Linked DNA regions of Homo sapiens: all the other regions are linked to region 1. The links come from fine-mapping of genetic effects on gene expression. A gene starts in region 1. Each other region holds a variant in brackets. All regions are shown on one strand. Distances are from middle to middle. Region 1 holds the start of SLC9A8 (solute carrier family 9 member A8). Region 2 has its middle 39 kb from the start of B4GALT5. Region 3 has its middle 24 kb from the start of SLC9A8. Region 4 holds the start of PTGIS (prostaglandin I2 synthase).

The links.
Region 2: its variant is fine-mapped to the expression of SLC9A8 in whole blood (TOPMed, PIP above 0.99).
Region 3: its variant is fine-mapped to the expression of SLC9A8 in whole blood (GTEx, PIP above 0.99).
Region 4: its variant is fine-mapped to the expression of SLC9A8 in gastroesophageal junction (GTEx, PIP 0.97).

Annotation. Positions count from the first base shown.
Region 1 is chr20:49,809,313-49,817,416 of GRCh38, reverse strand. SLC9A8 (solute carrier family 9 member A8) reads right to left here and starts at 4,589. Exons shown (of 16, transcript NM_015266.3): 1 at 4,469-4,589; 2 at 2,228-2,409. The coding sequence starts at 4,494. RefSeq lists a silencer at 4,341-4,620 and an enhancer at 4,771-4,910.
Region 2 is chr20:49,749,276-49,757,379 of GRCh38, reverse strand. No RefSeq gene overlaps it. Among named protein-coding and RNA genes, the nearest start is that of B4GALT5, 39 kb to the right of the region's middle. RefSeq lists an enhancer at 6,458-6,547. The variant C/T (reference allele first, on the strand shown) is at 4,102.
Region 3 is chr20:49,784,461-49,792,564 of GRCh38, reverse strand. No RefSeq gene overlaps it. Among named protein-coding and RNA genes, the nearest start is that of SLC9A8, 24 kb to the left of the region's middle. RefSeq lists an enhancer at 6,643-6,882. The variant A/G (reference allele first, on the strand shown) is at 5,025.
Region 4 is chr20:49,566,986-49,575,089 of GRCh38, reverse strand. It overlaps PTGIS (prostaglandin I2 synthase), which reads left to right and starts at 6,953. Exons shown (of 10, transcript NM_000961.4): 1 at 6,953-7,047. The coding sequence starts at 6,974. LOC101927486 (a long non-coding RNA gene) reads right to left here and starts at 7,046. Exons shown (of 2, transcript XR_244188.4): 1 at 6,917-7,046; 2 at 3,156-3,877. RefSeq lists enhancers at 5,422-6,036, 6,037-6,653. The variant G/A (reference allele first, on the strand shown) is at 4,325.

The sequences.
Region 1 (8,104 bases):
ATTAGGAGTATGACTTTGGTATCATTAAAGAAAAGCAGCAAATGAAATGCTTGTTTCACTTTCAAACAAGAATTTGTTTTTGTTTTTTTGGGGGGGTGGGGTATGGAGTTTCCCTCTTGTCACTCAGGCTGGAGTGCAGTGGCGCGATCTCGGCTTACTGCAACCTCTGCCTCCCGGGTTCAAGTGATTCTCCTGCTTCAGCCTCCCGAGTAGCTGAGATTACAGGTGCCCGCCACCACGTCTGGCTAAAATTTTTTGTATTTTTAGTAGAGATGGAGTCATCGTGTTGGCCAGGCTGGTCTCGAACTCCTGACCTTAGATGATCCACGCGAAAGTGCTGGGATTATAGGTGTGAGCCACGGCGCCCGGCCAAACAAGAATTTGGACTTGGCTGGGCGTGGTGGCTCACGCCTGTAATCCCAGCACTTTGGGAGGCCGAGGCAGGTGGATCACGAGGTCAGGAGATTGAGACCATCCTGGCCAACAGAATGAAATGCCAACTCTACTAAAAATACAAAAAATTAGCTGGGCATGGTGGCAGGCACCTGTAGTCCCAGCTACTTGGGAGGCTGAGGCAGGAGAACGGCGTGAACCCGGGAGGCAGAGCTTGCAGTGAGCCGAGATAATGCCACTGCACTCCAGCCTGGGCGACAGAGCAAGACTCCATCTCAAGAAAAAAAAAAGAATTTGAACTTGGGTCAAACTCAAAGCTATTTATTCCTTAGCTAATCAAAAGTGGTTGTGTAGTTTCAACTGGATTTCTTTTTTGTCTGTTTGTTTGTTTGTTTTTTGAGATGGAGGCACACTGGGAGGCATTTAAGTTTTTGTCTTTTATCTAAACCTCTCGACTGGTATCTGGTAACCTGGTTATCAGTCTCTAGTCTTATATCAGCCTGGTATGACAACCACCTGACTTCTCTATGCTGAAATTTCCTCACACACTAAAAGAGAAGGTTGAACAAAATTAGTTTTTTGGTTTTTTTTGTTTTTTTTTTTTAAGACAGTGTCTCACTCTGTCGCCCAGGCTACAGTACAGTGGCACGATCTTGGCTCACCGCAGCCTCCGCCTCCCAGGTTCAAGCAATTCTCCTGCCTCAGCCTCCTGAGTAGCGGGGATTACAGGCACATACCACCACGCCCAGCTAATTTTTGTAATTTCAGTAGAGACAGGGTTTCACCATGTTGGCCAGGCTGGTCTGGAACTCCTGACCTCAAGTGATCCATCTGCCTTGGCCTCCCAAAGTGTTGGTATTACCAGCATGAGCCACCAAACTCGGCCCAAAATGAGGTTTTCAGAGAGTGAATGCATTTAATCAAAAATAGTACATAACTAAATTAACAATACAGGTGGTACATAGATATGGCAAAAGTCATGACCATGGTTAATGAGAATGACAGAGGTTAAGGAAAACAGGGTGCTGGGGCAAGGGTTTCTGCTCTTTCAATCAGCAGCAAAACCATTAAATAAAATTCACATGGAAGTCAAATAAATATGAACACAAAATGCTGCTCTGATTGAAGCCAGGAGCAGGGGGTCAGATATTCTCCCATCTGACTCCTCCCACCTCCTGCCACCCCACCCCCTGCTCCTTCATCCCCTGCACAGGTGCATACTCCTTTGAGTAGAACTTGAAATCCATTAAACTAGATGTTCAAGATTCTTTTTTTTTTTTCCAGACAGTCTTACTCTGTCATCCAGGCTGGAGTGCAGCGGCGTGATCTCGGCTCACTGCAACCTCTGCCTCTCAGGTTCAAGTGATTCTCGTGCCTCAGCCTCCTGAGTAGCTGTGATTACAGGCATACACCACTACGCCTAGCTAATTTTTGTATTTTTAGTGAAGACAGAGTTTCACCATGTTGGCCAGGCTGGTCTTGAACTCCTAACCTCAAGTGATCCACCCAAGTCTCCCAAAGTGCTGAGATGTCAGGCTTGAGCCACCGCGCCAGGCCTCAAGATTCTTTCTAGGCCAAAATTTTTTTAATCCTTCTTTCAAAGGCCAAGATATTACATCAACAGCTCTTCAGAACTTGCTAAGCACCATGATTTTATAAAGAAGAGAGTTTCCTGTTAATGATGTTATAAACTGATCATGTTCCCTCAGTGTTTGATATGAAAACCAAATGGGAGGAAGACTTGACAGTCAAGAGGAGTGACAGGGTTAAACACACAGACCGAGCACACAGACACGGGATGGCAGATGATGGGGATGACAGTGTCCATATTCACCTAGGACAAGGAGGCTGAAGAAAATGGTCATGCCGCTGGACTGCTCCTCTTGCTGGGCCTGCTCCCCTGTCTGCACGGGGAGGATGGGCTTGCCAGGGGTCGGGAGCACCAGTTTCGTCGTGACAACCAGGGTGGTGTGGAGGGTGACATTGAAACCCTCATGAGTTGTATTGGGGAACCTCCTGGAGGACATAGAAAGCATAATTAGATAATGGAAAAGGGTCCCAAAACATCAATTCACACACCTCACACCAGAAAGAGAAGCTGTCCAAGAACTTTATGGGATTCAGAAGTCTTTAACAGGCAGGCCTTCGAGAGAAACTTACTAAGAAAATCCCTGCCTGCACAGCACAAGGGTACCAGTGGCCTCTGGTGCTTTTGAATACAGCCACTTAGAGGACAAGAACGGTAGGGAATCAGAGCTAGTATAGAAATGAAATGCTGCCTGCTCTTTGGCAAATACTGGGGGATTTAAAGGGAGGCAAACTGGAGTCTCATCACTTTCCAAGGTCCAACACTGTTTACTTAGCACCTTTGTTTCTCCAATTTACATTATTTTCCTGGCATTATTTCTGCAAGTTGAAGAAGCCACCTCAATTTGCCCAGTTGTTGATCTGGGCATGCCCTACCCTACTTTACAAAATCCCTCTCAGATTTCAAACGGCTCAAATGTCACCTCCTATTACCCCATCTTACCACACCCGAATTTACCCACTCCACTGCGTATGTTCCCACAGCTCTTTCACACTGTGCTGGGATTGTGAACTAGTACAATATTGCTATAATAACTGTTACTGTGACTACAAAAGTTATTATTTTCTGAGCACTGCTTTATTCCAGGAACTAGGTAACACACTACCTCTCATTTAATAGGTATAACATGTCTGATTGGGTATGATTACTTTCCGTTTTTTACTCATGCATAACTAAGGCTCAGGGAGGTTGCAAAACTTCACCAACATCTCAGTTAGTGGCAGAATCAAGCTGAAAACCCAAACTTGAAATCGCTGGGCTATATTGCCTCTTTTATTTTGTGCTGCTGAGGCTGTTTAGTGTCTGGGATGGAGCAGCTGCTCAATAAATAACTGATTACATGAAATGACCCCCACATGGCCAAGAAATATATTTGAAAAGTTATCAGGTGAAGGACTCCAGTATCAATGAAGGGGTTCCTTATTCATCTTCACATACTCATTCCACAAACAGTGATAGGGCATCTACAATCTGCAACAGACTCTGCCCTGCAGGTATGGAGATGACTTTTGGACTTGCCCAAAAGTACCTGGAGGACACAGCCCGTCCTTCCCCATCTCCCCTTGTCCAGCTAACCCCCTTCCTCTCTACACACCAGCCATGCTGCCTGTCACTCAAAAGCACTAAACTCTTTCTTGAGCCAGGCCTTTTGAACCTGATGTTATTTCTCCTATCCCTCATTCTGGTCATTCAAGTTTCTGCTGAATGTCACTTTTTCCTGAGTGGACTCCCCAACCTTAACTCTATTTTGCTTCCTTCAGAACACTTAACCCATTCATGCCAGAGGTTGCAATTTTTAGAACTGCAGACGTGAGAAAAATCAGACCTTGGCGATGACCTTGAGCAGTAGGATATAAATAACTCCCACATGCTTAGCGTTCCAATAATGGAACACTAGGCACAAATAACGTTAATTAATCACGATCTGAAACCACCTTGACTAATTATGGTCTTCTTTTCCCACTAGAATGGAAGCTCCCAGAGAGCGGCTCCTGGTCGGCCTCCTTTCCTACCACCTGCCCAGGGCCTGGAATTGAGTAGATGGCTAACAGTTAATGACTAAATGAAACTTAGTGAAGGAGAAAGACATGAAAACTGATCGTTATACAGGAGGCGACTGGCTACGTAGGAGGTGGGTGTGGAGAACCCGGACGACTTCCTGGAGGAGGCGGAAGAGGGCTCAGTAACCATGAGATTACCGAAAACTGGGAAAGTAAATATGGTTTGTATTTTCCGCAAGACAGCTCTCCGGGCCTGCGCTGGGCAGTAGATTCCCAGCTCGAGGGACCGATCTCCAGGGGAAAGCAAGGCCCACCTGGGCCCAGGCCCGCCCATCCCGCCCTCCTCGTAGGCACCGGCTTGGTCAGTCCTGGCCAACCAGCAAAAGAAGCTCCGCCTTCCGGGGCCGGAGGGCGGCCTGAGGCGCTCGCTGTCACCCGCCGGGGCCCAGCCCCGCCGCCTCCGCCGCCCGGGAAAAAGCCCACTCACTCCTCTTCCGCCATCTTCTCCCCCATCCTGCGGAGCTTCCAGGACCACCGAGTTCGGAGCCGCGGGGCTAGCAGGACCCGCTTTTGCTTCCGGCTTCCGCTGGAGGCGCGGGCGGGCGAGCGGGAGGCGGGGCCTCGGCCGCGCGAGGGCGGCCCTCTGTCCCTCCGTCTCAGTGGCCCGAGGGTGGGAGAAAGCGCGTGGGAGGATTGCTTCTTAGTCTCTCCCGGGGCTTTCGGGACGCTTGTCCGGCCTGGGCCACATGACCACCTGGGACCGAGAGATTCCGGCTTTTCCCCATCACAGGGCGGGGACGTTTTGGGGAAACTCCTCTGAGGTCACTGTGACTCACCCTGAGGGCAAGCAAGCACCCTCCACCCAGTGCCCTCGACTTCGCTGTGCTAAAAGAGTTTGAAAAAGGATGCCCAGCCTGCAGCCTAAGCGGAGAGACCCCAGGGGGACACTTCCCCACCCGAGCCTTAGTTTCCTTCGGCTGTGGAGAGGAATAACCGCCTGGACTTGGCAGGACTGTGCAGCATTCCATCTGTAAACATGTGTTGAGTTCAGACTATATGCCTAGCGTTAAAAAGGATGCTGATGATCTAGGGGTGGACCATTCATTAAGGGGTTCATTGATTCACCACATGCTTAGTAGATGCTTCTATGTGCCTAGCAGTGACCGGTGGGGTGGGGATGCAGGGAGGAACAAGGTGAGGTGAGAGGGGTAGGTGAGACCCCCATCGGGAGGACTGGGGCTGAGGACTTTGAACTTTATTGGCCGCTTCTGTTGCTACCTCCCTTCCTGATCCAAGGCACTCTATCTCATCTGGATAATTGCAACGGCTCCATTCAGGGTCTCTGACTCACCCCTGTTCCTTACGGACTTCCACACAGCAGCTTAACTCATCACTCCTCTGCTTAGACCCTCCAATGGCTTCCAATCTCCAGAGAAAAAAAAAACGTGGGGAATGTACAGGACTCAATCCTGCCCCCTTTTCCCCTCTGAAGTGTGTGGGAGGGGGGCATGGGGCTCTATATCTCCCCTCCCACACACTTTGACTTTCCACTATTGTCCCAGACTCACCAGGAATACTTCCACCGTTGCACTTACTGAGCCTTTATCTAGAATGCTCTTCTTCTGGGTAGCTCTTTGGCTCCCACCTCTCCTACGTTTGGCCTTTTATTTAACCCTTATCTTGTGTGTTAGACCTCCTTGACCACCCTACTTAAAATCCAAGGCCCCCCGCCTTCCCTAAACTATTTTTCCACATGACACCTAACCTACCATATGTTTTACTCATACACTTGTTTGTTAACCATCTCCCTCCATGAGAACGGAAGCTTCATGAATGCAGAAATTTTTGTCTGTTTTGTTCTCCATTTTATCTGCAATGCCTACAACAGTACCTGGCACATAGTAGACACTCAATAATAAATAATCATTGAGTAAATAAATCAGTTAATTCTAGCACACCTAGAAGGGTTTTGAACTGAGAAGTAACCTAAGCTTTGCTGCCTGTTGGGAGTTGACTGGGGATTGGCGAGAGAGAGAGGATGGAAGCCCCAAAGCCAGCAAGGAGGCTTTTGCAATAATCTAGGTGACAGCTGATGGCAGTCTGGATGAAAGTAATACGGTGGAGGTGGCAGGAATGGTTGGACTCCTGGACGCATACTGAAGACAAGGTTTGCTGACGGACTATGGCGTATAAAAGAGGAGTTAAGCATGGTGTCAGGGTTTTGGCCCCGAGGAACTGGGTAGAGAAGAAATCTGGCTCTAACCTTGGGTTCTCCATCCTCTGCAGTCTCTTAAGACTGCTAAAGCTGACTGAGAGAATGTCATCAGGATCCACCAATGTTTATTGAGTAATAATAAACTTGCTTCCTTCCTGCAGGTGTGGTGTTGGGCTATTGTTTCCTTAATTCTTTACATAGCTTTGAGGTAGATACCATCATTATCCACAGACATAGAGAAATCAAGGCACTTGCCTGCGGTCCCACAGCTAGCAAATGACAAGGCTGGGATTCAGGCACAGAGCCAGTGTTTTTAAACCAGTAGCCCTGCTACTCTCCACTGCCTTAATTTCTCTGGCTCTTAAATGGGACTAATAACCTACTCTCCTCCGTTAGCACAGAGCCTGGCGGGAATGACCTGGTCTACAAAGGATTGAGAGTGGGGTTCTCTCTGGCCACACTTGTCAACTGAGGGCTTGAGGCTACCATTTTCTACCAGCACCAATAAACCCCACATGGCTGGAATTCGCCAAGCTGGAAACTCCACATAGCTGGAATTCACTACTCTTCTCTATCCGTTGTCTTGCCTACTGCCCTTGGCCTCCTCTGGGCCTACCACTAACCATGAGGCTGCAGAGAACATTCTCTCATGCCCATGGGTGAGTCTTTGGCTCTTCTCACCTATTCCTGAGAATGAATCTAAAATCCCTGGTCCTTCCCCGAGGAAGGTGAATAAAGCCATTCAACATGCAGTTTCTGGGCTCCAATGCTGTGTCAGGCCGAGAAGGAGGCAGCATAAGGCACCACAAATTCTGGTGCCAGACAGTGCTGGTTCCCAACCCCTCCTCAGGACCTACAGTCTCCGTGACCCTGAGAGGCTACAGCACCCTCAGAGCCTCAGGGCCCCCTCAATTTTTTTTTCTTTTTTTCTTTAATAACGCTTCTCTTTAGAAGACTGTTACAAGATTAGAGAGAAAACTGCCTTTGCTCTCCATTGTCTCTGCCTAGACAGCTCTGCCCGCTATCTCCAGTCTTCTTGTTATTCATGTCTCAGCTTAAATGTCCCCTCCTCAGGGAAGCCCTCCCTGACCAGTCTCTGTAAAGAGTCAGACAGTAAATACTGAAGGCTTTGTGGGCCTTACTATCTCTGTAGCAACAAATCAACTCTGTAGTTTGCATGCAGCATAAATAATATAAATAGGCATAGCTGTGTTCCAACAAAACTTTATGGATACTGAAATTTGAATTTTGCATTACTTTCACATGTCATGAAATACCATTCTTCTTTGGATTTTTTTTTTTTTTTTTTTTTGAGATGGAGTGTCTGTCACCCAGGCTGGAGTGCAATGGCACGATCTCGGCTCATTACAACCTGCACCTCCCAGGTTCAAGCAATTCTCCTGCCTCAGCCTCCCAAGTAGCTGAGACTACAGGTATGTGCCACCATGCCCTGCTAATTTTTGTATTTTTAGTGGAGATAGGGTTTCACCATGTTGGCCAGCATGGTCTCAATCTCTTGATCTCGTGATCCGCCTGCCTTGGCCTCCCCAAGTGCTGGGATTACAGGCATGAGCCACCAGGCCTGGCCTGTTGTTGTATTTTAAGATGGAGTCTCACTCTGTCACTCAGGCTGGAGTGCAGTGGCACGATCTCGGCTTACTGCAACCTCTGCCTCCTGGGTTCAAGCGATTCCTGCTTCAGCCTCCCAAGTAGCTGGAATTACAGGCGTGTGCCACCATGCCCAGCTAATTTTTGTATTTTTAGTAGAGACGGGGTTTCGCCATATTGGCCAGGCTGGTCTCAAACTCCTGACCTCAAGTGATCCACCTGCCTCAGCCTCCCAAAGTGCTGGGATAACAGGCATGAGCCACTGTGCCTGGCTAAGAATTTGATCTTTAATGCTTTTAT
Region 2 (8,104 bases), 60 kb after region 1:
TCTGATGCCAGCACTCATTTGGAAGGAAATCCTGACCTGTCCTGAGGTTATACATAATCTTATTGAACCCATTTAGTGTAAATTTTGAAACTCTGATATCCGATAAATGGTTGTAGCCTCGTGATACTAATCTTCATGACAACACTACGAGGTGAGTACTATTGATATCCTGACCTGGGAGGAATTTGTTTTTGTTTTTGTTTTTGGGACAGAGCAAGACTCTGTTTTTGTGACACAGCAAGACCAGGCTGGAGTGCAGTTGTGTGATCTCGGCTCACTGCCACTTCTGCCTCCTGGGTTCAAGTGATTCTCCTGCCTCAGCCTCCCGAGTCACTGGGATTACAGGCACGCATCACCACGCCCGGCTAATTTTTTGTATTTTTAGTAGAGATGGGGTTTCACCATGTTGGCCAGTCTGGTCTTGAACTCCTGATCTCAAGTGATCCACCCGCCTCAGCCTCCCAACGTGCTGGGATTACAGGCGTGAGCCACCGTGCCTGGCCAGGAATTTTTTTTTAAGTAGTTTTCTTTATGCAGGACTCTGCAGAACCCTTAATCTGCCAACATGCTCTGTAAATCTCCAGGAGGCTGCTATAGAATGCAGCCTTCCCCAGACTCACAGACCATGGATGTCAAGGTCATTTTTTTCCCCAGGAGATCTCCCTGTGCTATCACTTTGAGAACCTGGGAGGCCTACTGGGTGGAACAGCCTGGAAGAACTAAGGACCCTGGGCAGAACAGGAGCAAGAAGGAGCCTAGCTAAGTGGACACTGGAGTCCTGTCACCAATTAACTGTATGTGTCCTTGAAAAAAATCTCTCCTCCTCTCAGAAACTTAGCCTCTTGACTCAAAAAACACATGACAAAACCATCTTTGAAGTCTCTTAGCTCGCCAGCAGCATTTTCTCTTGTCTTTTGAAGAAGAAGCAGGCGGATGCATTTGAAGAAGACAGTCACAAGAACTTCAAGGGGGTACAGCTGGTGCCAGGTTCCCCTTCCTGGAAATCATTTGAAATATCAGGCTGGGCTGGGAATTGCTCAGCAGTGGGAAGCAGGCAGGAAGAACTCCAAATGTCCCTCAAGCTGCAGGATGCTGAGTGCCAGATCACTTTCCAACCCTTTAGTATCTGAACTTGCCAATGACATTTCTTTCTTTGTTGTTCCAATGGCCTCTCCGAGACCACTTCAGCAAGAGCCAGCCTTGCCAGATTAAATGTACTTCTTTCATGCGCTTAAAAGAAATGAAAAACCTGGCTGGGCACCGTGGCTCACACCTGTAATCCCAGCACTTTGGAAGGCTGAGGCGGATGGATCACCAGAGCTTAAGAGGTTGAGACAAGCCTGGCAACATGGCGAAATCACATCTCTACTAAAATTACGAAAAATTAATCAGTCGTGGTGGTGCATGCCTGTAATCTCAGCTATTTGGAAGGCTGAGGCACAAGAATCACTTGAACCTGGGACAAGAAGATTGCAGTGAGCCGAGACTGTGCCACTGTACTCCAGCCTGGGCAACAGAGCAAGATTCTGTCCCAAAGAAAAAAAAAAGTTCCCAAGTGTTCCACATACTTTGAAGTTTTACTATCTACTTTTTGAAATGGTGAAAGTTGGCCCCAGAGAAACAAAATTCAAGCACACACAAAAAAATCTGAATTAAATAGGTCTCCCTCCCATTCCCCTCTGCTACCTGTCCCCCTCCACAGAGGCATTCAGCATTACCAGTCTTGTATATCTCCTTCCAGGTTAACTTTAGAGGCATGGAAGCATATATTGTTGTATCTGTTGGGATGCTTTTGGCTGCAAATATAAAACAATACCCAACCCGCAAATGTATAATTTACCTATGAGGAGTCTGGATGTAGAACAGTTTCACAGTTGGTTCATTTAGGGAAGCAATGCTATCACTAAGGATTCAGATTCCTTCTCTCTTCCTGCTCTGGCATCCTTAGTACTATAACTTTGTGTCTTTTTTTTTTTTTTTTTTTTGAGATGGAGTCTTGCTGTGCTGCCCAGGCTGGAGTGCAGTGGCACGATCTCGGCTCACTGCAAGCTCCGCCTCCCGGGTTCACGTCATTCTCCTGCCTCAGCCTCCCGAGTAGCTGGGACTACAGGCACCCGCCACCACGCCCAGATAATTTTTTTGTATTTTTAGTAGAGACAGGGTTTCACCATGTTAGCCAGGATGGTCTCGATCTCCTGACCTCGTGATCTGCCCGCCTCGGCCTCCCAAAGTGCTGGGATTACAGGCGTGAGCCACTGTGCCCAGTCACTTTTGTGCCTGTTTTTTTATTTTTATTTTTTAATTTGAGACAGGGCTTCTCTGTTGCCCAGGATGGAGTGCAGTGGTGCAATCATGGCTCACTGTAGTCTTGACCTCCTGGGCTCAAGTGATCCTCCCACCTCAGCCTCCCTAATAGCTGGGACTACAGGAACACACCACCACCACTCCAGGCTAGCTAAAACAATTTTTTTTTTTTTGAAGAGATAGGGTTTCACTATGTTGCCCAGACTAGTCTGGAACTCCTAGGCTCAATCAATCTTCCTGCCTTGGCCTCCCAAAGTGCTGAAATTACAGGTATGAGCCACCGTGCCAGACTTTTGTGTCTTGATACTGGGTGAGTCAGTAGCATGGGCAGAAGGAGTATCCTGGAAGCCATTTCTCTGCCAGGACAACAAGCAATACTTTCCTTATTCACCGAAAAGATCGTGAGCTACAAGACTACATCCCGCTAAAGCTGCGTGCAGTGGTGCACACCTGTAGTCCCAGCTACTCAGGAGCCTGAGGTGGGAGGATCACTCGAGCCCAGGAGCCCAAGTCTAGCCTGGGCAACACAGTGAGACCCCCACCTCTATTAAAAAACAAAAAAAAGATTACATCCACTAAACCCAAATTTAATGGATTCCCTAACTCATCTTCCCCTTAGCTGATCCCTGCCCATAGCTCCCCAAATGCCACCCGATGCACATTCCCAGGCAGGCAACGTTGGGGAGCTGGAGAGACCTTGTCTAACCAGTTGCAGCTAAAATACTTACCTTTGCAGATGTTGCAGAAACACATGACTGTGTGAACATATTGCTAGATTTGGAAGGGGCTGTGCAATTGAAGAGCCCTGATCTCAGCTTTGCTTCATTCACTTAATGGTGGATCTATCTCTAGATTTTCAGAAAAGCTGGACAGGACTATGTGATGAATCAGATGTAAAAAGTGAGTGAAAGGCCAGGCGTGGTGGCTCATGCCTGTAATCCTAGCACTTTGGTAGGCCAAGGCAAGTGGATGACTTCAGGTGAGGAGTTCGAGACCAGCCTGGCCAACATGGCGAAACCCTGTCTCTACTAAAAATACCAAAAAAAAAAAAAACCAAAAAAAAAAAACCTGGGCATGGTGGCACACACTTGTAATCAGCTACTCCAGTGGCTGGTGCGCAAGAATCTCCTTGAACCCAGGAGGTGGAGGTTTCAGTGAGCTGAGGTGGCGCCACTGCACCCCAGCACCCCCCAAAAAAAGTGAGTGAAAGAGAGAAAAATCCAGAATTATTTCAGTGTATTTTTGGCTTGAGTAACCAGGTATTTAGTAAGGGAGAAACAGGTTTGGAGGGTGAGGAATCATAAAGTTTAATTTTATTAGACAGGCGTGGTGGTGTGCACCTGCAGTCCCAGGAGGCTGAGGTGGGAGGATTGCTTGAGCCTGGGAAGTTGATGCTGCAGTAAGCCAAGATTGCACCACTGCACTCCAGGGCAGCGGAGTGAGGCTCTGTCTCAAAATAATAATAATAACAATAAAAGTTTAATCTTAACCATGTTAAATTTGAGATTCTTACTAGACATTAATGAGCAGTTGGACACAGAAATTAGGCATTTATTATCTCCACAGTTCTTAATAAGTAAATCTTGCATCTGTAGGTTTTTTTGTACTTAGTCAAAGCATCCCAATAGTTACAATATTTGCATATATGTGTGTACTATATTATACACACACATATATACTTCTATTCATCCATCTATCTCTCTACAATTTACCCGGAAGATGATGCATGAAACTAGTCATAGTGCCTGCCTCTGGGGAGGGGGGACTGTTGGCTACAGGATGGAGGTGGGAGGGAGG[C/T]GGGAAGCATACTTTTACTCTGCTTGAATAAAGAACTGGAGACTAAGAGGAAACTTACTTAAGGTCACAGAGCTGGTGGGTAGCAGGGCTGCCATTTGGGCTGAGGTTGGCCTGGTCCCAAGTCCAAGCTCTTTCTGTTCTGACAGGTTCTCTCTCCTAAATGTATACCTCCAGGATCAATGCTGTCTTTCTTGCTGCCTCTCCCTGGTCTGGCTCCTCTGTGTGTCTCACTGCGGCATCTCCTGTGGCTGAGCATTAATAACTGGCTAAAAGGATTCCTGCCTGTGGCCAGGAAAGGCTGGGTGCACTCTTCTTCCCCTCCATTCTGGAAATCATCTATGTAGCCTGTGGCTACAGCTGCAAGTGAAAATAGTGCTGGAAGGTTCCCAGAAAACACACCTGCCCCAAATGGACCAATTTCTCCTGCCTTCCTTTACTTAAAGATTAGAGATGTTCAGAATTCTGGTCACAGGCCTGGGTTATAACTGCTGCTCTTTCACTGCTAATGGTGCTGTGTGTCCTTGGGAAAGTTACTTACCTTCTCTGTGCCTCGATTTCCTCATCTACAAAATGATATTAATAGCAGTAGCTATCTCACAGGACTGTGGTAAGGGTCAGTGAGCCAGCAGGTGTAAACTGCGTGGCTCTCTGCCTCTCTGGCACACCATCAGTCAACAGGCATTGCTCCCACCCCACACATGCCCTTCCCCCACAGTGCCTTAGCACATGGAGTTCCTTCTACCTGGAATGCCTTTCCCTTCCCCTCTTATTAGTCTAACCGTCTAATTAATGACCACTCACCCTTCAGAGCCTCCAACATTTTACTGTAACATTCACAAAGACAGGACTGCTTGTGTCCCAACACCCAGCACACATGGTATTTGGCATATAGTTGGCATTCATTAATTGTTTATCCATTGAGTGAGTGAATGACTAAGTGAATTAATAAGGTGAAAGATCAGTTAATGCTCACTCATTCAATATATGTTCTGTAAATGAGGATAATAAATACCCATCTGACTGTATCATTAGGCTTAAAAATGCTGCGCATTTAGGTCAGGCACAGTGGCTAACGCCTGTAATCCCAGCACTTCGGGAGGCTGAGACGGGTGGATCACTTTGAGGCCAGAAGTTTGAGACCAGCCTGACCAACATGGTGAAACCCCCGTCTCCACTAAAAATACAAAAAATTAGCTGGGCGTGGTGGCACACGCTTGTAATCCCAGCTGCTCCGGAGGCTGAGACATGAAAATCACTTGAACCCAGGAGACAGAGTTTGCAATAAGCCAAGATGGTGCCACTGCACTCCAGCCTGGGGGACAGAGTGAGGCTCTGTCTCAAAAACAAAGAAACAAAAAAGCAAAAATGCTGTTCATTTAAGTGTCTAGAGTGATACCTGGTCAGCAGCACTGAATAACATTTATTATTAGTGCTATTTTATATTATTATCATTTTAAAAATTTTTTGTCGTTTTTGTGGAGACAAGGGGTGTGGGGAAGGGGTTGCCAGGTTGCCCAGGCTGGTCTCAAACTCCTGGGCTCAAGTGATCCTCCTGCCTCTGTCTCCCTGAGTGCTGGGATTACAGCTGTCAGGCACCACACCCAGCTATGATCATTATTATTATTTCGCACAGGTGTTCTTGCATCTTACTGGTGGGCTTAGGCGTTCTTGGCCCTGCTCTCATGGACAGGCCCCTTCAGAGCTTCACCTTGGCAGCTGGATGCACTTCTCTGTCCAAGCAGCCTCAGCCTCCAGATGCAGGAATGTTCCTGTCTTGGGGAAACAAATTCTTAGCTTCAGGCCTGACTTCTGCCTGGCCTTGGCTTCAGTTTCTTTGTAGATAACTTCATTCAGCTGCAGAGCATCATGGACATATCGTGTGGTTTCTGCCCAGTTTGTGGTGACCCATCTCTCTTTGAAACAGGTGCAACTACCCCATGAAACCACGCGTACAAGCTACTCAACCCTGCCCTCCAGCCAGAATTGACTGCACAAAGACGGGCACCTGACTGGTTGAGGTGATCAGATTCTCTGTCTTGAGAATGTGGTGAGTCTTGTGGGCTGTTGCTTAAAGGAAGGGGTTGTGCTGTCAGGTGCTATGGGGCAGTCGGGTTTGCTCATGGGCTCAGGGAAGAAGACAGGGAGAGGGAAAAGAGAGAAGCAGAGATGAGGAAACCTGTGGGCAGAGTCATAGAGAGACCAGGATTTGGCTGCCACAATTCCTGGTGGCCTTTCAGGTGCTCATTTAAGAAATGTGTGAGGCCACTGCACTTCCTGCCCTTGTGTTTCATGTGATAACAGCGGTTCTCACAAAAAGTACAGCCAGGTGGCATAATAGACACCTGTTGTCTTTGCCTTTCTGGCCTTGATGCCCCTTCTGGAAACAGCACCTGCATTCTCCCGGGAGCTACGGGTCTCCTCCTTTCTGTCCGTGGGGGCCAGCTCTGCCTAGCTCTAGGCTGGCCCAGTCACAGCGATTGGTTTAGAAATGGGCATGTGACCAGGCTAGACCCAGTGAGACTTCCTTCTGGGACTTTCTGTTCTCATCCGTGAAAAGACAGAATTGCCTGGCTCTGCGGTTGCTGAGAGGCCATCTTGACCCAGGAGTGGGGACACAGCAAAAGCTGGAGTGCAGCACTGGAAACGGAGGGAGAGTCCCTGGAGCCACATGTTGGCCCTTGGGTCCAGCTGTGCTGGAAGCTGGCACTTGTCCTGATGTTTTCAATTAAGTGACCAAAAATAAAAGTTGATTCTCCTCATGCTTCAACCAAATTTAGTTGGGTTTCTGCAACAGCAGAAACACTCCTGACTGATACTTCTTATGGTGAATTTCCCCTTTTTTTTCTTTCTTTTTTCCTCTTTTTTTTTTTTTTTTTTTTTTTTTTTGAGACAGGGTCTCATTCTGTTACCCAGGCTGGAGAACAGAGAACAGTGGCACAATCATGGCTCACTGAAGCCTCAAACTCCCTGGGCTCAGGTGATCCTCCCACCTCAGCCTCCCAGTAGCTAGGACTACAGGCACTCACCACCACACCCAGCTAATTTTTTGTATTTTTGTAGAGACAGGGTTTCGCCATGTTGCCCAGACTGGTCTCAAACTCCTGGGCTCAAGCAACCTGCACGCCTTGGCCTCCCAAAGTGCTAGGATCACAGGCTGAACCACCGAGCCCAGCCTCCCCCTTTTATTATAGTTGGAGCCAGTTTTAGTGGGTTATTTTCCACCAGATCCATAGATCTTGGACTGGGATATTGAGCCTCCATTCTAATGCCCACACTTCTGTTTCATTCCCAGTGATTTTGTAGGTTCCCAGATTTTGGCCTTAGTTCCTTTTCCTTTTGCTTTTGAGAAACTGCCTGGGATAAAAGAAGTGGGAACTTCCATTCATCAAGCGATTACAATTTCAATAATTGTAACTTCCATGAGGAAGTCATTCTAATCAGCCCCATCTTGGGATATGGTGGTTTAGAGTCAGAAGTGAGATGAGGACCAATGAAGGCAGGATTTTACAAATGAGGAAATGGAGGCTCAAACTGGTGAAGTGACCTGCCAAAGATTACCCAGCCAGTAAATACTGAGCTGGGATTTGAACTCTGCTCTACAGGACTTCAAAGCCTGGCTTTTAGCCACTATCTGTCCTGCCCAGGAACAAGAGCAATCCAATGCACAACCACCTGCCTAAGTAACATGCATTGGAGGCCCCAGGTTTATGCTTTTCCCCCTGCAAATTCCAGGTCTAGGTGTTTAAGAAACAAGCAGACAAGAATAGCTGAGGATGTGTTTCACAGCCCTGAGCATGCAAAACTAGGGCCGGGCGCAGTGGCTCACGCCTGTAATCCCAGCACTTTGGGAGGCCGAGGCAGGTGGATCACGAGGTCAGGAGATTGAGACCATCCTAGCTAACATGGTGAAACCCCATCTCTACTAAAAACACACACAAAAAAATTAGCTGGGTGTGGTGGCGGGCACCTGTAGTCCCAGCTACTCGGGAGGCTGAGGCAGGAG
Region 3 (8,104 bases), 25 kb after region 1:
TGAGGTCAGGAGTTCAAGGCCAGATTGGCCAACATGGCGAAACCCCATCTCTACTAAAAATACAAAAAATTAGCTGGGCGTGGTGGCAGGCTCCTGTAATCCTAGCTACTTGGGAGGCTGAGGCAGGAGAATCGCTTGAACTGGGAGGCAGAGGTTGTAGTGAGCCAAGATCACACCATTGCACTCCAGCCTGGGTAGCAAGAGTGAAACTCCATCTCAAAATAATAAATAAATAAATATTAGCAGTTGCTATTATGTCACTGCCTTACTCATAAGCATTCAGTGGTCACCACTGGCCTTAGGAGACAGTTTGAATTCCACATCATGGACCACAAGGTCATGGTCTATTCCCTTACCGCCCCTCTTCCTTCCCTCTGTTCCCCTTGTTCTCTGTTCTCCAGTCAGAGAGAAGTGGGCTTCTCTCACTTCCTCCTGCACCCCTCACCTTCCCTGCCACTGGACCTTTGCATATGAGATTTTCCCTTGCCTGAAGTGCTATTCCCTCTTGCCCTTCTTTTGCCTGGTTAGCCTCTAAACACCTTCACACATCATGTACAACGGCACCTGTTTCAGGAGGTCCTGTTAGAATAGGTTGAGTTTTCTTGGTCTATGTGTGTGTAACTGTCTATAATTTCCCTTTTGGAATGCTCTCCCTCCTGGAATTGCTTGGTGTTGATATCCTCCTGTCAATGGTGAGCTCCTGGAAAGCAGGGGACTCTTCTGATTTTATCATTAAAATTTTTTTATTTTAATTTTTCTTTTTTAGAGCAGGGTCTTGCTCTGTCGCTCAGGCGGGAGTACAGTGGTGCGATCGTAGCTCACTGTAGCCTCGAACTCCTGGGCTTAAGCATTCCTCCCTCCTCAGCCTGGGACTACAGGCACACACCACCACTTAATTTTTTTTTTTTTGGTAGAGATGGAGTGGTCTCCCACTGTTACCTAGGCTGGTCTCAAACTCCTGGCCTCAAGGGAGCCTCCCACATTGGTCTCCCAAAGTGCTAAGATTACAGGCATGAGCCACTGTGCCCAGCCCTGACTTTATCATTGTTGTGAGCCTACGGCAGATACTACAGATTGGCTCACTCACCTATCCCATTCCCCTGTAGTGTGACCTCCTGTACTGTAAAGGCCAGACAGAGAAAAACTACATTCTGAGATTTCTTTGCAGCAAGAGTGCCTTATGTGATCTGGGTTCCCCTAGTAAGCCTTGGAGACAGAAGCAAGCAGAAGGATGCCAAGTGGTGGAGTCTTCTGGCAAGCACAGTGGGAGCGGTATCTGGTCCTTCTGGGGAAGCATGGGGCAATTCTAGCAGCCTGTCTCTAGCTACCTAGGTCCTGAGTTTGGGGAGAGGGGGGCAGCAGCAGCAGTGATATTTTGATTAGAACAGTTCAACAGTGAAGGTGAGTGTTGCTCCTGGCATCGATGCTCCTGGCTGCACCGTTTGTGGCTATTTAACATCTAGAGTACTTCCTACCTTTCATAAATCCCTTTGTGGGCCAGGCACGGTGGCTTATGCCTGTAATTCCAGCACTTTGGAAGGCCGAGGCAGGTGGATCACTTGAGGCCAGGAGTTTGAGACCAGCCTGGCTAACATGGTGAAACCCCATCTCTACTAAAAATACAAAAAATTAGCCAGGCGTGGTGGTGCATACCTGTAATCCCAGCTACTTGGGAGGCTGAGGCAGGAGAATCACTTGAGCCCTGGAGACGGAGGTTGCAGTGAGCCGAGATTGTGCCACTGCAGTCCAGCCTGGGCAACAAGACTCCATCTTAGAAAAAAAAAAAAAAAATTCCTTTTCTGCTTAAGCTGGCTCTAGTTGACTCTGCAATTTAGAATTCCTTGCCCAAGCACTCCATAAATATTTCTTGAATGAATGAATGAATGAATGATGACCTCTCAGGAATCTCTCTCTTTCCCACTGATTATATCCCCAAGATGGAACATCTCAGTCTGAGTCTACATCACAGGCCCCAGATGGGTAGGGTTCTTTCAAAGGTCAGGGACAGGAAAATGACGTTGAATGTCCTTATCACTGGCCGGACAAGAACACTGAGGCCTTGCAGATGAAAGAATCCGAGGAAGGAACTGGGGTTATCTCCTAAGGCAGGTGGGGGGCGCTGGCTAGGAGCCTTGGAATGAAAAGGGTTGGGAAAGGTTAGTGTGTGAGAATGAGGTGGAGAGGAGGCAGCCAGGGTGGATCACTCAGCTGTCCCAGGGCCTCTCAGGGGGCTTTCTCTTACTGGGTCCCTTTCTGCTATGCACACTGATAAGTCAACTCAGTGCATATACTTCCTTTGAGCTGAAAAGCAGGCTGGAAAAATACAGTTATGAGGCAAATATTTTAAAAGAATTCTTGAACCATGCGTCTGCCAGAGCAGCTTTAGCTGTGCGTGACAGAAAACCAATCTTACGAAACGTTTAGGTTGGTTTCCTGCAGAAGCAGATCTGAGACAAGGATTTGTGTGCAGATATTAAATCGTTTACTTGAGAAATGATCCCAGGAAGCTCTGGTCGGGGAGGGAAGTAGGACAGGGAAGGGAAAGAAACCAATAGAAGGTAAGTTACTGAGCAGGTTATCACTCTGGGCAGCTGGGGCTCAACCCTGCTGGGGAACTGTGGGACACAGAGTGCAATACACCTCAGAATTATCCAGGTGAAGGGCAAGGGAGTGGGGACATTTATCCACCAGCCCCTGTCACTCATTGGTTAAGGGCTGCTTGTAGGGGAGGGTGAAGCCCCCAGCATTCTCAGACTGTGTATGCAGAGCGTATATGAGAGCAAAGCCCTCAGGCTGCAAAGATAGGCGTGGAAATTTGAAGCCATCCACTCACTGTGGGTCAAAAGGATGAATGCCAAGGGGATATGGACACAGAAGCCACGTCATCTGCTACAGTGACTTAAGTCCAAAGAGGAACCATATTGAGGATGGGCGCGGTGGCTCATGCCTGTAATCCCAGCACTTTGGGAGACCAAGACAGGTGGATCACTTGAGGTCAGGAGTTCAAGACCAGCCCGGCCAACATGACAAAATCCTGTTTCTACTAAAAATTCAAAAAAGTTAGCTGGGCGTGGTGATACGTGCCCATAGTCCCAGCTACTCAGGAGGCTGAAGCAGGAGAATTGCTTGAACCCGGGAGGTGGAGGTTGCAGTGAGCTGAGATGGTGCCACTGCACTCTAGCCTGGGTGACAGCGAGACTCCATTTCAAAAACAAAAAACAAAAAAACAACAAAGAGGAACCATATTGACTCATGGAGAATAACATGTTCAGGAATATGTGGCTGCCTTCAGGTACAGCTGGATTCAGGGGTTCATAAGTTATCAGGGCTCAGTCTTTCACTCTCACAATGGTGGCTACCTTTGAGCTTCAGACCCTCTTCATACCAGCCTAGCGCAGCAGAAGCAAAACAATCCCAGCAAAAACCTGAGGGATAACTCACTGGTCCACTTGGGGCAGGTGCCCATTTCTGAGCCAATCCCTATGGGCAGAGAAATGAGGGGTGCTGATTGGCCAGCATGGAGCATTGGCCTTCCTGGAACCAAGGATAAAGTTAGTGCTGCATGCCTTTCACATGGACAGGGAGTAAAGAAGGGGGCTCCCAGAGAAATTAGGATGCTGTTATGATAGGGGAATTCATAGTGAGTAGACAAAACCAAAAGGATAGATGTAATCTAAATCCCCACTCTGCAGACAAGGAACTACTACCTTAAAAATATACAATAAAATATTTTTTATTATCTATCCCTAGGTAAGGGAAGGGCCTTGTCCCAGCTCATTCAGTTAGCAGCACCCAGCTTCCTGTCTTCACCTGGTGTCTTTTCTTCTGGAGCAGGTGGTCTCCCAATAAACAGGGTTTGTTTACCCAACACAAACACATTAGTGTCCTTCCTGTCCTAGCTTCTTCTCCCAATCCACACTCAAGGTGACTCTACTACATATATTCCTGTTTTTTGTTTTTAAGAGACAGGGTTATGCTCTATTGCCCAGGCTGGAGTGCAGTGATGTGAAGAAGCTGGGACTACAGGCATATACCACCACACCCAGCTGATTTTTTTTTTTAAACTTTCTGTAGAGTTAGGGGTCTCACTATATTGCCCAGGCTGGTCTCAAACTCCTGGCTTCAATCAATCCTCCCGCCTTGGCCTCCCAAAGTGCTGGGATTACTGGCATGAACCACCCACTGTGTCTGTCTACTTCCTGCTTTTGTTAAATTAAAAAAAAAAGAACATATTTATTTATATATATATATATATATATATATATAGACAGAGAGAGAGAGAGATGAGACAGATATAGCTATAGATAGATAGATAGATAGATAGATAGATAGATAGATAGATGTATACACATATGTTGAGATGGGGTCTTGCTCTGTCATCCAGGCTGCAGCACAATGGCGCAATCAAGGCTCACTGCAGCCTCAACCTCTCAGGCTTAAGTAATCCTCCCACCTCAGCCTCCTGAGTAGCTGGGGCTACAGGCACACGCCACCATGCCCAGCTAATTTTTTTAAAAAATTGTTTTGTAAAGGCAGGGGTCTCATTGTGTGGCCCAGGCTGGTCTCGAACTCCTGGCCTCAAGTGATCCTCTCACCTCAGCCACACCTGGCTTAAATAAATATTTAAATCCCTATTTTCAAGACAGAGAAACTGAGAGTTTAAACAAATGATGTAATGCTGGGGTTGACATGAGCCATGTGGGCATGTCGGGGAACAGTTCTTCACTGGCTATAAGTTAGTCATGTGGCTACCCCTAGCTGCAAGGAAGGCTGAGATAGGTAGTAAAGCCATGGGAAGCCATGTGCCAAGCTAAAAATCAGGTATACTCTTACTAGGAGAGAGAAGACAAGAACACAAATTAAGGGATCATTTGCAATCTTTGACCAAAACAACTGACTCTGAGATGATCCATAAAAGGTAACTGCTATTGTTGTCTCTTTTTTGAAAAACTCAGAAGGTATATTTGTTTTTGTTTGTTTGTTTCTGTTGAGACAGAATCTTGCTCTGTCACCCAGGCTGGAGT[A/G]CAGTGGTGCAATCTCGGCTCACTGCAACCTCTGCCTCCGGGGTTTAAGCAATTCTCCTGTTTCAGCCTCCCAAGTAACTGGGATTACAGGCGTGTGCCACCACACCCGGCTAATTTTTGTAGTTTTAATAGAAACGGGGTTTCACCATATTGGCCAGGCTAGTCTTGAACTCCTGACCTCAACTGATCCACCCACCTCGGCCTCCCACAGTGCTGGGATTACAGTCATGAGCCACCCTGCAGGGCCTCAGAAGGTATATTTGAAAGATGCGCATAAATGCTGGGTACTGATATCGTTCTGCACTGGACTTTGGAATCAACAAAATAGAGTTTAAATTTTTATTTCATGCCTTCCTGGGCTGTATGACGTTAGGAAAGTTCCTTAACCTCTCTGAACCCTGCTTTCATCATTTGCTAAGCAAGGATAATGGTATATTACTCATCAACGGCTGGGAAAATCAAATAAGACAATGGACATAAAGTTGAAGTATAGTATTCAGTCCAAAGAGGGTGTTCAATACATGGTCATTTTATTGATAAGGAGTGTATGCTGGGTTAGAACATGAGCTTGGAGATCAGAGAGACCTGGCTTTAAATACAGACCTTCACTTCCTGGCTGAGCAAATTATTTAACCTCTCTGTGCCTCAGCCTCCCAATATTTGAAATGGAAGCAGTAACAGTTCCAGCCCACTGGGTGGCTGAAGCATGAAAGAATGGATGGCACATTTTATTTTATATTTTATTTTATTTTATTTTATTTTATTTTATTTTTTGAGAGATGGAGTCACCCTCTGTCATCCAGGCTGGAGTGCAGTGGCACGATCTCTGCTCACTGCAACCCCTGCCTCCCAGGTTCAAGCGATTCTCCTTCCTCAGCCTCCCAAGTAGCTGGGATTACAAGTGCCCACCACCATGCCCAGCTAATTTTTGTACTTTTAGTAGAGATGGGGTTTCACCATGTTGGCCAGGCTAGTCTCGAAATCCTGACTTCAAGTGATCCACCCGCCTCGGCCTCCAAAATGCCCGGCCAGATGGCACATTTAAACCAGTCAAGCAAGTATGCTTTCGCTTTATTTTGTGTTATTATTAGGTTCCTTTTTCTCTTTGAGGGCATGGAGGAAGAGACAGGGTCAAAAGGCTGTTGCTACAAACATACAAAGTTTGTAGTAAGTAAGTCTTACACAAAAGAATACGTGTTATGTGCTGCCATTTCATCAAGTTCAAAAAACGGCAAAAATCATCACTGCTGTTGGAATCAGGATAACGGTTATCGCTTAGGATGGGAAAGACTTGAAGGGAGCTTCTCCGGGGCGGGGAATGTTCTGTTCCTTGAGCTGGGGGCTGGTTACCCCGCTGTCTGCCTTTGTGAAAATGTATCGAGCCATCGCTCCCCTGTGCACTTTCCTTATTTGTGCACTTTTCTGTATGTCTGTTACACTTCAATAAAAAAGTTTTCCCCCAAAAGTCTCTGTGGTCTGTTGGAAGCTGGCAATGGCCAAGGGGCTGAGGCGCACAGGTGGGGACCCTTCCTTGCTAGCCACCGCAGTTTCTGTTTCAGCTTGAGGTACAGCAATCAACTTCCTCTTCAGATGCATGACTTGCTGCTGACCTCTAGAACCTCTGGCCACAAGGCTCCTCTTGCCCCTGTAATGTGGCCTGATTCCATTCCTTCATCTGGGTCCAGTCTGGTGCCAGCCAGCCTGACTGTCCATATTATCAGACGCCAGGACTGTGGGACAGACTTGTTTAGAAGGATATTTTGATCAGTAGCCTTGGGTGGCAGCTTCAGATCAACCTCATATTGAACTTACAAGGAGGGTTGGTGCTGTCTGTTCTTTCTTTTTTTTTTTTTTGAGACAGAGTTTCACTCTTGTTGCCCAGGCTGGAGCGCAATGGCACGATCTTGGCTCACCGCAACATCTGCCTCCCGAGTTCAAGCGATTCTCCTGTCTCAGCTTCCCAAGCTGGGATTACAGGCATGCGCCACCACGCCTGGATAATTTTCTATTTTCAGTAGAGACAGGGTTCCTCCATGTTAGTCAGGCTGGTCTTGAACTCCCAACCTCAGATGATCCGCCCACCTCGGCCTCCCAAAGTGCTGGGATTGCAGGTGTGAGCCACCGCGCCTTGCCTGTTCTTTTATTCATTAATTCAAACGACAAGTTGTAGACACCTAACATGTACATGGTTCATGGTTTGTACAAGGATACTTCATTCATGCATGCATGGATTCATTCATTCATTCATTCACATACCTGCTAGGCACTGTGCTAGGTGCTGGGAACGCATCTGTGTAGAAAACAGACAAGGTCCCTGCACTCCTGGAGCTGATTCATTAGTAGAGGGAAACGGAAAATAAATAAATAAATTGCCCAGCATGATGGTTCACTTATAATCCCAGCACTTTGGGAGGCTGAGGCGGGTGGATCGCTGGAACCCAGGAGTTTGAGATGAGCCTGGTCAGCATGGCGAAACCCCTTCTGTACAAAAAATACAAAAATTAGCCAGGTGTGATGATGTGCACTTGTGGTACCAGCTACTTGGGAGGCTAAGGTGAGAGGATTGCTTGAGTCCAGGAGACAGAGGTTACAATGAACCATGATCACACTACTGCACTCCAGCCTGGGCAACAGAGTGAGACCCTGTCTCAAAAAAATAAAAATAAACAAGTAAATGCACAGTATGTTAGATGGTATGAGTGCTACGGAGAAAATTTAAGCAGAGACACGGACAGTGAGTGCAAGACGTGTTTGGGGGCAGGTTGCAATTTTTAATAGAGTGTTCAGAAAATGACTTCCTGAGAAGATGGCATTTAAGCAAAGACTTGAGGAAGCCAAGGGAGTTGGCCATTTGAATGTATGAGGGAGGGCTGGGTGTGGTGGCTCACACCTGTAATCCTAGCCGTTTGGGAGGCTGAGGTGGAAGGAATGCTTGAGGCCAGGAGTTTGAGATGAGCCTGGGCAATATAGTGAGACTCCCATCTCTACAAAACAATAAATAAATTATTTATTTATTTATTATTTAATATATTTCATTATTTAATATATATATTATATATAAATATATATACATATATTAT
Region 4 (8,104 bases), 240 kb after region 1:
TCAGCCTCCCAAAGTGCTGGGATTACAGGCGTGAGCCACTGAGCCCAGCCTTGCTTCATCTCTCTTTCTTTTCTTTTTTTTTTTTTTTTGAGACAGAGTTTCACTCTTTTGCCCAGGCTGAAGTGCAGTGGCGCGATCAACCCCCGCCCTTCTGGTTTCACATGATTTTCCGGCCTCAGCCTCCTGAGTAGCTGGGATTACAGGTGTCCCCTACTACACCCAGCTAATTTTTGTATTTTTTAGTAGAGACGGGGTTTCACCATGTTAACCAGGCTGGTCTCGAACTCCTGACCTCATGATCCTCCTGCCTCAGCCTCCCAAAGTGTTGGGATTACAGGCGTGAGCCACTGCAGCCGGCCTAGCATCATCTCTTTTATTAAGTGCCTACTGCATGCACTAGACACAAGATCTTCTTGAATTCGTCCAACCACCATGGGAGGGGGGCCTTGTCGTCATCATCCTCTTGTACAGATGTACCAAGGCTCCAAGAGTAGAAAGCAGCCTATTCTAATTTAACTGGTACAAAGAACATTCAACCAAAAGGATTCTAAAAAGTTCAGAGATAAAGTATACATTAGTCAATTCTTGTTGCTTAAGAAGATCTCAAAATCTCCATGACTTGTAACAACACGTACATTTTTCTTCTTCGGACCTCTGCAGGTCAGCTAGGGGTTCTCTACTTCAGGCTGCAGGTTGAGCTCAGGTTTGCCCTGTGGGTCATGGCTCAAGGCAGAAACCAAGGTCAAGTGGAAATATGTGATTCCTCGTGAAACCTCTGCTCAGAACTGGCAACTGGTCATTTCTTCATCCTCCACTGATCAAATTGAGTCACAGGCCCGAGTCCACCATCACTGAGTCAGGGAGATACTATTCTCTGCTCATAGTGGGAGGCACCGCAACCCTGCAGCCAAGGGCGTGAATGTCTAATTCTGATACAGGGAGTGGGTAAAAATTGGAGACTATGATCTAATCTACTGCAGCACAGTTCCAGGGGTGGCTAATTAATTGTGTGACTTAGCAAAGATTCTCCTCAGGCTCCAAGGTGGCTGCCACAGCTCTGACCCAATCTCTGGCCACTCACACGCTACGCTGAGGTGTGGTGATAGCGTGACCAACCTTCCTGGTTTACCCAGGACCGAGAGGTTTCCCAGGATGCAGGGCTCTCAGTGCTAAAACTGGGAAAGTCTGGGCAAACCAGGATGCGTTGGTCACTTGACGTGTGTAGCAGATTGTTTCTGAACGTTTGGGGGTAACTGGGGCAACATGTGAGTGTGTATGTGAGAGTAGTGCATGTGTGTGTGTGCGTGTGTATGTATATGAGTGTATGTGTGGTGTTATTCCACAGCCCAAGACAGCAAACAACTAAACACTCAGTATGACACATCACCAATAGAAATGGTCATTTATTGGCTCCTAATTCCACAGAGGATGTCACACTGGGACAGGCCCCCAATCTGTGCTCATGTCGGCCTGGTCTTTGCCCCCTCTTTCAGGCTGCCCCCTAAAACTCTGTTGTCCTTCCTTAATTCTACAGAGCAATTTTGTTCAACATCCCAACTCCAAACCTATTTTACATACCCCAAATGTTTAAACCACTGGCCCTTGGCACAACTAGACTGCAGGGCTAAAAATCTGGGGGCAGGTGTGTGCTGTTGGTCTATGCAGCGTTTTAAAATAATTGGAGCCATTATTTCTGGCTTCTCTTGAGTCTAAAGATCTGGCCACACTAGGCATGTATTTCTACGTGGCTTTAGTTGGCTGGTACTGCCAGAAGCTGCTTCCTTTTGGATGGGGCAGCCCTCTCTAGTTTTCCATTGTTCCCATCCCTCCCTGTTGCCTTCCTGATATGACTGGCTCACTTCATTCATTTGCAATACTTGCTCGAAGACTTGAGTTTACCACTCTCTCTTTAGCAGCACAAAAACACCAGAAACGTTGCGGTTTGGGTCTCTCCTTCCCCTCCACCTCTCAACCTCGTTTAGCTTCTGTAAGTGGAAGAATTTATTCTTGCATTGTTCCAGTTTTAGACGGCAGCTGTGCTTCCTTTCGTAGCTGCAGCAGCCATGAAAACACACCTCTGGGACCTCCCTTGGTGGAGCCTGATTGACAGATATGCCATGCTTCCCAGGGTTTGCTCCTAGCCAATCACTGGGGGAAGCAGACTTGTTCTTGGGAGACATAGGGCTCCTCAGGAGGCTCAAGGACAACCTGTTAGCCTTGAACTAACTTACTTACTTTCTTTTTCTTTCTTTCTTTTTTCTTTTTGACAGAGTCGCTCTGTCACCCAGGCTGGAGTGCAGTGGTGCGGTCTCGGCTCACTCTAATCTCTGCCTCCTAGGTTCAAGCAATTCTCCTGCCTCAGCCTCCCAAGTAGCTGGGATTATAGGTGCCAGCCACCACTCCTGGCTAATTTTTTGTATTTTTAATAGAGACGGGGTTTTCACCTTGTTGCCCAGGCTGGTCTTGAACTTCTGACCTCAACTGATCCACCCACCTCAGCCTCCCAAAGTGCTGGGATTACAGACATGAGCCACTGTGCCCGGCCAGACTTGACCTTTCTAAGAATGCACTGCAGCCCACGGTCCCTTCTTTCCTCTGTCCCTTCCTTCCATTTGTCCTCCTTTCTGTCCCTTTCTCCCAGCCCTCTCTGGCTCCCTCTTCATTTTACTCCCTGGCACTCCCTCAATAAGCCTTTAGTATATCTCATCTCATCTTGGCTCTCCTGGAGAACCTGCTCCTAACCGATTTGGAAAAATCAAAAGGTAGAGAAAGAGAGGGCTTCCAGGCAGGTAAACAGCATGAGCAAAGGTGTGGAGGTGGGAAGGCCCAGGGTGTGTTTGCAGCACCAGGGAGTAAGTTAGCTTGTCCTAAGAAGCCATCAAATTCCCATGCTCTAGCTTATCAAAGGAAGTACTACGTGACCTTGGGTGAAGTGACTCTTTCTGGACCTTGATTTCACCATCTGTGAATTCGGAATAATTTTACTACCCATTTTATAGGTTCTTTGTGGGGAATAAATAAATTATTATGAAAAAGTGTTTCAGATGGCTTCAGTTACTAACTAAAGTTAGAACTATTGTTACAAAAAAATATTTAAAACTGCCCCTCTCTGTTGAGACTGGTTTTTAGCCTTGAAGAAGGCAATACACATAATATTTTCCTTTCCGGACACAGTTTATTTGTAGCCTTTAGGATGCAGACATGAATCAGACCTGATCCTTGGAAGAGAGAAAGCAGGGGTGTAGGGTAGAAGGGCTCCCTTTCCCAGGCAAAATTCCCTGTGTTCTAATTGGGTTGGGTCTTGACATTACTCTCACAACCCCACAGTGGCCACAGAAGAGAGCAGAGGCTTGGTGAGATGGGAGAGTTGCCTAGATGTCTTGTTTCTACTGGACAGTGAACATCTGAACACACTGAGGCTCCTACAGGGAAATGTCTGGATGTTCGTCCCTGGGAGAATAAATTTTCCCGGGGGTCCAGTTTCCCTTCCCCAGAGGAGCTTCCCTTCCCCAGAGGAGGGCTTAGATGGCACACTTGGAAGCTCTCTCGGTGGCTCCCTGCTATCACCACTACCAGCAACATGCCCATTGCACAAGTAAAGTAGTTGAGGCTCACAGATTAAGCGACTTGCTTAGGTTTATATGGAAAGCAAAACTTGCTTTTCAAATCCTTGCGTATTCCAGCCCTTTTGCCATGGGCTAGAGGGGTCTTCCTTGGGATGGTCTTCCCTCATCTTTATTCTGAGGCCATATCAGCTCTGTCCTCAGCAGGGTCCTTTGAGTCCTCCCGGGGCAGGGGAATTCGGAATTTCTGCTATTTTCAAGGCCTGCCTGTTCCTCCAAGATGCCATAGCCAGAGGGTTGGATGTCCTGTCAGCCTGATAAACATAGAAAGCTTACACAGTAAGCAAAGTAAAAATAATAAAACAAAGCAACACTTTTGAATTCTCGCATGGGCCAGTCCTGCAGAGGTGCTCCGGATGCATCATTGCCTCATTTGGTCCTCCCTTCAGCCATATCTAGAAGGCGTCTCAGTTGGGAATGTCTTTGGCTGCAAGTATTAGAAAAATCTGACTCATGGTGTCCTAGCACAGACGTGTGGTTAGCTCATTAAATGAGAAATCTATAGGCAGGTGGTTCCAGGGATGGTGATTCCGCAGCTCTGGTTTGGGGCTCTGCAGTTTTCTTGGCCTTCCCTCATAACACTACAGCCCCCCTCAGCTCCCCCACTAATCACATTCCCACACGATTGCCCCCAAAGCAGAAGAGAAGGCAAATAGGAAGGAAACACATTTTTCTAGAAGCCCGCAACAGATATCTGGAAG[G/A]TGCCCACCTCAGGACAAATCACTAGCAAAGGTGGATTTCCTGGACCAGCTCAGACCCATGGTGGGTCATTCTCTGGGAAGGGGGCCTGGCCACCTTCCTAAACATATGCCGACTCCTGAACAAATCCAGGAAGAACCAGAGGCTCACATTCATCTCCCTTTGGTGTGTGAGCAGCTGCCTCTCCTTCCCTGGGAGGATTTTGTCTATGGGTCGAGAAGGGAAGAGAGTATCTGGAAGAGATATTTGTATTGAGGTGATATTGGTCTGCACTGAAGCCAGGGGTGGGGAGTAGAAGAACTAATATTTATTGAGTACCTATTGTATACCAGACCCTGTGCTGGGTGATTTCATTCTCTTTTCATTTAATTCAGTTCTCAAAGCAGCCCCATGAGGAAGGAACTGTTCTTCCCATTTTTCAGATGGGAAAATTGAGACCAAGCCTGATCACAGATAATGGAGAGGAGCGGAACTGGTATAAGCGCTAATTGCGGTTAACTTTCCCTGATGCTCATGGTGTGACAGGCACTCACATAGGTGTGCCCCATGGACCAGGTCGTTTGTTCCTGACCTCAACTCCATGAGGTTCTCTTTTCCCCATTCTGTCAATGAGGAACCTCAGCTTAGGGAGGTGGAGCAGTCTGCTTGGGGTCACAAAGCTGAGGATCGGCCAAGCCCAGCTGTGAACCCCACTGCTAGCAGACAGCCCTTTGGAGCTCCCCAAATTTGGAGAAAATCCTCTGGACCCGTTCTATGGCCTTCTTGGGATTGTTGGCTTCTCTGGCAGATAAGCTGGAAAAATAAACAAGAGGATCAGAAAACTCCTTTTGCCTCCTGCTGTTCTGAATCTGCTGAGGCCACAAGGGGGTCATCCAGCTGCCTCGACAGCCAACATTAAGCAGGCAAATGAATGAATCTTGAGTATGATAGCAGGACATGTGAAGTACTGCCAGAAAAAAAAACTATCAAAAAAACAAAGAAACAAAAATCAGTAAGAGGAGATGACTGTTTTAGACCAGGTGGCCAAAGACAGCTTCTCTGCAGTGACAGCTGAGCAGAGATAGAGGCACCGGGGAGGTGGTGGAAAGAGCAGGCTGTGCGAAGAATGCTCCGAACAGAGGGAACAGCACGTGCAAAGGCCCTGCAGTGGGACCTCTAGGGAAAGATGGGGAGATCAGTGTGGCTGGAGCAGAGTGGGTGAGGGAGAGAGTCGGGGGCATAGGGTCAGGCAGGTAAAGGTGAGAAGGGGCGGATCATGCTGGTTCTCGAAGGGCCTTGTCAGGACCCTGGCTGATAAGGATGGAAGCCAGGAGACCAGGAGGAGCAACAGCTTCTCCAGAGCTCTGCTGGGACTATGGAATGAAACGTGCCTAAGCTCACCCGGCACTGAATGGGTGGATACAGGACTAGAACAAGACCTCCTGGGTCTTACCTCCAGGTTCAGCCCATGGTTTCATAAAACTTAGTGTGCCAAGCACTCAACAGTTTGTGATTCCTTTTAGTGTCAAGCTCTCATCACTTCCTCACAACAGCCCCAGAGGTAAGCACAACTCTGCCCTCCCTGTTTCCAGATAATGAGGTGAGCTCAGAGAGGTTGAGCTACCTGCCCAACGCTTCCCAGGGTGGGAATGGGGATGGTGGGGGCAGGGGCGTGGAGTGAGGCTGGATTGACCCCCAGTTCTCATCAGCACCCTGGGGTGGTACATTGCAGAGCCGCGGGCACAGGGGGCTGGCACCCCAAGCACCAGGTAGCGATGACAATGGCCACCACATCCGGAGGCCCTAACGTGCACCAGGTAGAGGGTGCATACTTCACGGGCACTATCTGTCCCCAAAGCAGGTGAGGATGAGGGGACTCCCTGAGACACCCTTGTACCCCCTGCCCAGTAGTTACTGAAGATACTATAGGGTGCGATATAATCCAGACCAGCCCTCCCAGCCCAGACCACAGAATGGAAAACTCCAGGTCCCCAGCACGCCTGGGGTGGGGGATGGGGTGAGGAGGAGCCTTGGGGGGTTTCCTCTGTCTAGGTGGAATGTGGAATGTGGTGGGAAAGCTCCTCCTGACCCCCTTACACTCCTCCTCCATGTTCGTCCCCTCCCACCACATTTTCTCCTCCCACTGTGCCCCCTCCTCCCCATACCTCCTTGGCTGTTTCCCCATCGTCCCGCCGTCTTCCCACATTCCCTCCTCTTCCCTTCCCCAAAAGTCCTCTCCCATCTTCCCCATCCCTCTTCCCTCCCCGCATATAATCTCTTCCTTCCTGTAAATCCTCTCCCTCTCCCCTCCCTTCCATCACCCCCCAGTCCACCACATCCCCCTCAGTCCCCCATCTATCTCCTTTCCCCTTGATCACTCCCCAGCCCACCACATCCCTTCCGCCCCCTCCCCCTCCCCCTCCTTCTCCCCTCCCCTCCCTCCCACATTTTCCATCAGGCCTGAGCTGGGGGGAGCAGGGTTTCTAACAGAGCGCCCCGGTCCGACCCCTGCGGACCTCGGAGGGCCCCATCCCCCACCCCCCCCACCCCGCCCCAAAGCGGGCTGGGGTGGGCGGAGTGGGAGGGGCGCGCCGGGTGGGGGCGGGGAACTTTACCTGGGAGTGGGCCAGGCCGCCAGCCCCGCCAGCCCCGCCAGCCCCGCCAGCCCCGCGATGGCTTGGGCCGCGCTCCTCGGCCTCCTGGCCGCACTGTTGCTGCTGCTGCTACTGAGCCGCCGCCGCACGCGGTGAGTGTCCTGCTCCGCTCGGCCCCGCCAGACAAAGGGGGCGGCTCCCGCCCGGGCTGCAGCCCAAGGGTCTCGGAGCCCGCGGCCGGCCCGGCCCGAGTCCCGCTCCAGTATCCCGGGCAAGGCGAGACCCTCGGAGGTGGGAGTCCCGGGGCCCCGCACGTGGGTGAGGGGGCCAGGCCGTGCTCCCCCTGCCAAGAAGGTGCAAGGTGGGAAGGTGCGGGGTCCGGTAGGTCCCCCGGGGCGAATCGCCCACCGCGACAAGTCCGAGTCTGGCCCTTAGCGCGACGGCAGGGACCTAGGAGGGGGTTTCAGGTGAGGACCGAGGGTTTGTGGGTGGGGAGCCGTGCGGGGACAGCCTCTGCGTGGCCCGGGTGGAAGAAGCGCTCTCCACTCTCCAGCCTCTGCCTGCACCTGGCACCCACCTACGCGCTGTCAAACCCTGCCTTGCTTTCGGCAGTCCTATAGGGATAGCCTCGCTCCTCAACCCATTACACAGATGGGAGTGTTGAGCCAGCGGAGTGTAGAGCCCCTGGGGGATGTCTTGATCATGCCCTGGAACCACCCACCCCGGGATTCCCCGTCTGGAAGACGGGGGTCGGTGGGCTTAGTAATTTCATTTGCCAGGGAGAAACTGAGGCCTATGAAGTCTCTACCTTCCCCTGAGGTCCCACAGCCTGGACAGAACGGAGCCAGGGTCAGATGTCACAGCCTCCTGGTCCCAAAGGTTTTCCAGCTCCATTGAGCATCTGTGATTTAGGAGAAAAAGTAAAGACAGCCTCAAATCAAGGAGATAGCTGTAGCTCTCCTTTTCATAAAATATTTTTTAAGTTAACTTGAATTGCATAAGGAATAGCTGAATACATTCGACTTAACACAAATATTTATCCTGTTATAGGTAAGACCGAAGCCCCTTAACCCTCCCCCAGCCCCTGAAGTCTAGTCCTCTCTCCCTCTCTGGGCCTCTCCTGTTGCTGAGTCTGGGTAGAACCTTCCATATTTAAAAAAATATACTTTTTATTTGAGACTAGTTTGGGATTTACAGAAAGTTGCAAAG